2 separate regions of the Homo sapiens genome follow, and region 1 is linked to region 2. Evidence: fine-mapped expression QTL. A gene starts in region 2. The other region holds a variant in brackets. All regions are shown on one strand. Distances are between the middles of the regions.

Region 1 (2,500 bases), 22 kb before region 2:
AAATTAATAAGAAAGAAGCTAGCTATTACGGATATGGTGACAATTTATTACTTTTCTTTCTAAAAGGAAAACAAAGAAATCTAAAATTCCTGAAATTGCTCAAGAAAATCACAGTCCAAATATGAAATTAAAATAAATAGTGTATTTAGTAACTAGAAGAGGGAGTAAAGTAGAATCCACTGGCCTTGCTATAAACATACTCAAATGGTGAGGGGGAGAGTCACTGAATTGGGATTGTGATGAAGCAAATATAATTACAGTATATTACTTGGCTCCACAGTCAATAAAATTTACACATTCATAATCATGTATTTTGTTTTGAAGCTTCATAATCAGTCTATACATAAAAGACTTCATTGTGTTATAGAACAGAATGTATTATTAACTATGACAAAAAAATTGTTGAGAATTCTCAATTCTCAACTAACCAAACAATAAAAAAGAGAGACACAGGTAAAGAGAAAGAAAAGGGGCACTAATCTTGTACTGCAAATCAGAGGTGGAGCACACAAAATAGATTTAATTACTTAAAGTTATTAAAACAACAAACCAAAAACTAAAGCACAGAAAATAGTAGTCAACATCTCAAAAACTGAAAAGAGAAGAAGGATCAAGGCATGTTATGAGTGAATTAAATCTTCATCTGGCACAGAAAAAAATTCAAGAGATAAAGTCCAAAGTTGGTTATTCTAAAAATAGTAATATGAAAATATTATTTAGAGATATGGTAATAATCACCTGAAAACACTAAAATAAAAGCAGAAAGCTGAGTAGTTGCCTCTGGAAATTTCAACTATTGTTTTTCATACATTATACATTTTGATTAAATTTTAAATAATTTCTAAAAGCCTATTTCCTTTATGATTAAAAAATTATGTTATAATTGTTTTCTTTAATAAAAGGAAAAATTCTATCTAAAATTCCAGTGAATTATATTTAGGAACTTTACAAACTGAAATGTACAATGAGCTAAAATAGCTAAAACTATTTTGAAAATGAATGACATCTGAAACTTACCCTATCAGATGATAAAGGTGATTAAAAATATATAATAATGTAAATTGAATATGGCTATGAATATGAGTACAAGAAGAGAAAAATCAATGGAACAGACTAGATAGCCAGAAAACTGACCTTAACAGACAGAAGCATGCAACAGATGATAAAACAGTAAGAAACAAACCAGTAAGAAAAAAAACAAAAAAAATGCTTAATAAATTATGCTGGAAAATCAGTTACATATCTGAGAAGAAAAAGAAAATTTAGTTTTCATCCCACATCACAGACCAAAAATAAAGATCAATTAAACAGTTAAGTGTAAAAACTAAAGCATGAAAAAGAAAAAAAGACAAGCACACAACAGATTATTAATCTAATTCTGGAATGGGAAGAGACTTTACATACAAAAGTA[GA/G]AAAAAAAAAATCACAAAGCAAAAAGATCGAGTAAACTGACTTCAGAAAAACTGTCTACAGAAAAGATTCAAAAATCAAGTTAAAGAACTAAGAAACGTGAGCTTAAAATTGATTTAAAAAATTAATGTTCTTAATATGTATATAAAGGCTCGAAAAGAACAAGAAAAGCATAAGTATCAGAAAAAAATAAGCCAAAATAATGAATTTTAAAATTCATAGAATTAGAAATATGAATGCATAATCAACATGAAAAAGTTTTTCAACTTGATAGTTAAGCTAAGAAATATATATCAAAACAAGTTATCATTTTACCCTTCCAACAGGCAAGGACTAAGTAAAGCCTATTTCACACTGGATGGGTGTGCAGCACTTAACGGAGATGGGGATGCAAAATGATATCATCTTTTTGAATAGCTTATAAATGTGTCATGAGTTTTAAAAATAAATTCACATTCTTTAACACAGTAATTAAAATTTTTTTACTTCTATCCTAAGAAAATAATCAGAAACAACTACTTACATACATACGTTGCATATTTATACCAAATATATAGATTATCTATATATGACAGAAAAAAATGAAAATAATTTAAATATCCAAAAGGGTTAAATTTTTGCAAAACTATATAAAGGAATAGTTTAGACCTATCAAATTATGATTTCAAATAAATTTTTAATGATATGAGAAAATGCTTAAAGTATGTTATTAGAAAAAGTTTAAGAAATAATAAAATTTGGAAGTAATATAATATATACATAGCACTTACGCCAGGCACTATTACATATATTAATTCATTCTATCCCCCAACAACCAGTAAGACAGGCACTATTCTTATTTCCATTTTACAGATAGGTAAACTAAGCCACAAAAAAATTAAATGATTTTCCAAGAACCACAACTAGTGACAAAGTGAACACCTGAACCCAACAGTATAGCTCCACAATGCCTGCTCTTAACGATCAGCATATGACAGAAAGGGATAAATGGGATGGAAAGAGAAGAGGAATAGCTATGGGAAAAAACATCAAAGCTTTAACAGACATTGTACATGGGTTGTAGGATTAATGGTCATTTATTTTCTTCTGG
Region 2 (3,028 bases):
ATTTTCTCATATTTAAATTTAAAATATTAATGAGCCTTTACTATGTGTTCCGTGCTGTGCTTGGGGCTATGAGAATTACAAAGTTACCATATGACATAGTTCTTGTCCAAGAATCTGTAGTTTCTTGGAAATAAGAAAGAGACACATTAAAAGCTTAAAACTGGCCGGGCGCGGTGGCTCACGCCTGTAATCCCAGCACTTCGGGAGGCCGAGGCGGGAGGATCACGAGGTCAGGAGCTCAAGACGGGGCTGGCCAACATGGTTAAAATCCCGTCTCTACTAAAAATACAAAAATTAGCCGGGCGTGGTAGTGGGTGCCTGTAATCCCAGCTACTCGTGAGGCTGACGCAGAATTGCTTGAACCCAGGACGCAGAGGTTGCAGTGAGTGGAGATCCCGCCACCGCACTCCAGCCTGGGTGACAGAGCGAGACTCCGTCCGTCTCAAAAAATAAAAAAAAAAAAAGAAAAACTGAAAACTGAAAAGGTCAAACTAAGATCTAAAAATTCAGTTAACTCCTGGACACTTCCTGCCTAATTCCAGTGTGCCCTCTCACCCAGCTAAAAGAAGGTGCAAACTTCGCTGGTCTGCAACAAGAAACCTTGCCACAGATGTTAAAGAAAAGCAGACCAAAGTATACACTAGCTAAACGTACCCCAGGGTTCTGCTAACTCAGGTTTTGCAGGAAATAAATGCCACACATATACACACACGACCTTGAGCACACATAAACATTTACCCTAGGCCTCGGGAAAGTGTCAAAATCGTTCAGAGGCTCACAACGAGGTCATAGTAGACTACTTCGGGGACGGGACGGGAAAACGCGTCAGCAGCGGGGAAGTTGTTTCTACGAAGGGTCTTTCTTCATAGACAGGAGATGGGCTGTTGGTGGAGGGGCGCAGAAAAGTCCCGATCTTCAGGAACCCCGGTGGTCCTGGGAGGAGAACTGGGAAAGCTCTCGGGGTCTCAGCAGAGAGAAGAAGCCACGCTAAAGAGTCTCCACAAGTACCCCGGGATTTGACCCCTCCAGCCCCCTAACCTGCCCTGGGGGACATGCGTTCCCGGGCCTCGTCTTCCTCTAGCGCGGATCGCTACACCCGTCCGAGCCCTCCTCGAGGGCCTCACCACCGGGCGGGGGGAGATGGAACCCGGGAGAGAAGTGCAGACCGCCAGTCCCAAGAAAACACTACACTTCAGCTGCTGCAGCCCCAGCAAACGCCGAACTCCCGGGAAAGCAACCGGTCTGACCTCACTTCCTGTCGCCGAGCGGAAGTGACGAAAAAGAGTGAGCCTTGAGGAATTGCCAGGGTAGGAAACCGGTTGCTAGGAAACTAGGGAAGGCGTGGTCTTACTTTGGGCGAGTCTACAGGGAGAAAATGATGCTCTGACAAAGATCTATTCCCCTTCCTGCTCTTCTACCTTTCATTCACGAACGCTGAGGTTTCTGACATCCCCTAGAATCTGCTCAGACACGCCTTCACTCCCAGGACAGCAGAACAGAGTTAAGAGAACTCAAGAATATTTAGGAAAACTAATATATCCCAAGCTGGATTTTTAGAGTTCTGGTGAGATATAACTTACATACCATAAAGTTCACCTGCTTAAAATGTACAAAGCAGTAGTTTTTAATACATCTATCGAGTTGTGCAATCATCCCTATAATCTGATTTTAATTTTTTTTTTTTTTTTTTTTTTTTTTTTTTTTTTTTTTTTTTTTTTTGAGGCTGAGTCTCGTTCTGTCGCCCAGGCTGGAGTGCAGTGGAGCGATCTCGGCTTACTGCAACCTCCACCTCCCGGGTTCAAGCGATTCTCCTGCCTCAGCCTCCCGAGTAGCTGAGACTACAGGCGCCCGCCACCACGCCCGGCTAATTTTTTTGTATTTTTAGTAGAGGCGGGGTTTCACCGTGTTAGCCAGGTTGGTCTCGATCTCCTGACCTCGTGATCCGCCTGCCTCAGCCTCCCAAAGTGTTGGGATTACAGGCGTGAGCCGCCGCGCCCGGCCTTTTTTTTTTTCTTTTGGAGACAGTCTGGCTCTGTCACCCAGGCTGGAATGCAGTGGTGCCATCTCGGCTTACTGCAAACTCCACCTCCCGGGTTCAAGCGATTCTCATGCCTCTGCCTCCAGAGTAGCTGGGACCACAGGCACGTGCCACCACGCCCAGCTAGGTTTTTGTTTTTTTTTTTTTTGAGACGGAGTCTCGCTCTTGTCGCCCAGGCTGGAGTGCAGTGGCGCGATCTCGGCTCACTGCAAGCTCCGCCTCCCGGGTTCACGCCATTCTTCTGCCTCAGCCTCCCGAGTAGCTAGGACTATAGGCGCCCGCCACCGCGCCGGGCTAATTTTTTGTATTTTTTTTTTAGTAGAGACGGGGTTTCGCCGTGGTCTCGATCTCCTGACCTCGTGATCCACCCGGCCTCTCAAAGTGCTGGGATTACAGGCGTGAGCCACCGCGCCCGGCCGCTAGTTTTTGTATTGTTTGTAGAGATGGGGTTTCACCATGTTGGCCAGGATGGTCTGGATCTCCTGACCTCAAGTGATCCGCCGCCTCGACCTCCCAAAGTGCTGGGATTACAGGTATGAGCCACCGCGCCCAGCCTGCCTGATTTTAAACATTTTCATTACCCCAAAAGGAAACCCTGAAACCATTCGGAGTCACTCCCTGTTCTCCCCCATTTCTCCTCCCCCTTCCAGCCCTAGGCAATCATTAATCTACTTTCTGTTTGTATACACTTGCCTTTTCTGGACATTTTATATATAATATGTGGTCTTTGTGACTGACTTTCACTTTGGGTAATGTTTTTGAGGATTATCCCTATTGTAGCTTGTATTAGTACTTCATTTATTTGTTGTTGCAAATAATTTTGTTTACCCTTTTGTTAGTTAATAGACATTTGAGTTGTTTTACTTTTACGTTATTATGAATAATGTTCCTATGTTCATAGCATTAGTCTATAAGTCTTTGTGTTGCCATATGTTTTCATTTCTGTTGGATAGATACTGAGGAACGAAATTGTGGGCTCATATGGTAGCT

Which allele goes with the higher level. Positions count from the first base shown, and alleles are read on the strand shown. Sizes are in standard deviations (SD) of each study's normalised expression.
As copies of G replace GA in region 1, the expression in NK cells of the gene that starts at base 1,250 in region 2 goes up (large effect, 1.0 SD a copy in Schmiedel 2018).

Evidence for each region. PIP is the estimated chance that this variant, and not a neighbour inherited with it, causes the effect.
Region 1: its variant is fine-mapped to the expression of PIK3R4 in NK cells (Schmiedel 2018, PIP 0.95).

What each region holds. Positions count from the first base shown.
Region 1 is chr3:130,724,174-130,726,673 of GRCh38, forward strand. All of the region lies in intron 6 of PIK3R4 (phosphoinositide-3-kinase regulatory subunit 4), which reads right to left. Among named protein-coding and RNA genes, the nearest start is that of PIK3R4, 21 kb to the right of the region's middle. The variant GA/G (reference allele first, on the strand shown) is at 1,412.
Region 2 is chr3:130,745,580-130,748,607 of GRCh38, forward strand. PIK3R4 (phosphoinositide-3-kinase regulatory subunit 4) reads right to left here and starts at 1,250. Exons shown (of 20, transcript NM_014602.3): 1 at 739-1,250. RefSeq lists an enhancer at 931-990 and a silencer at 2,225-2,274.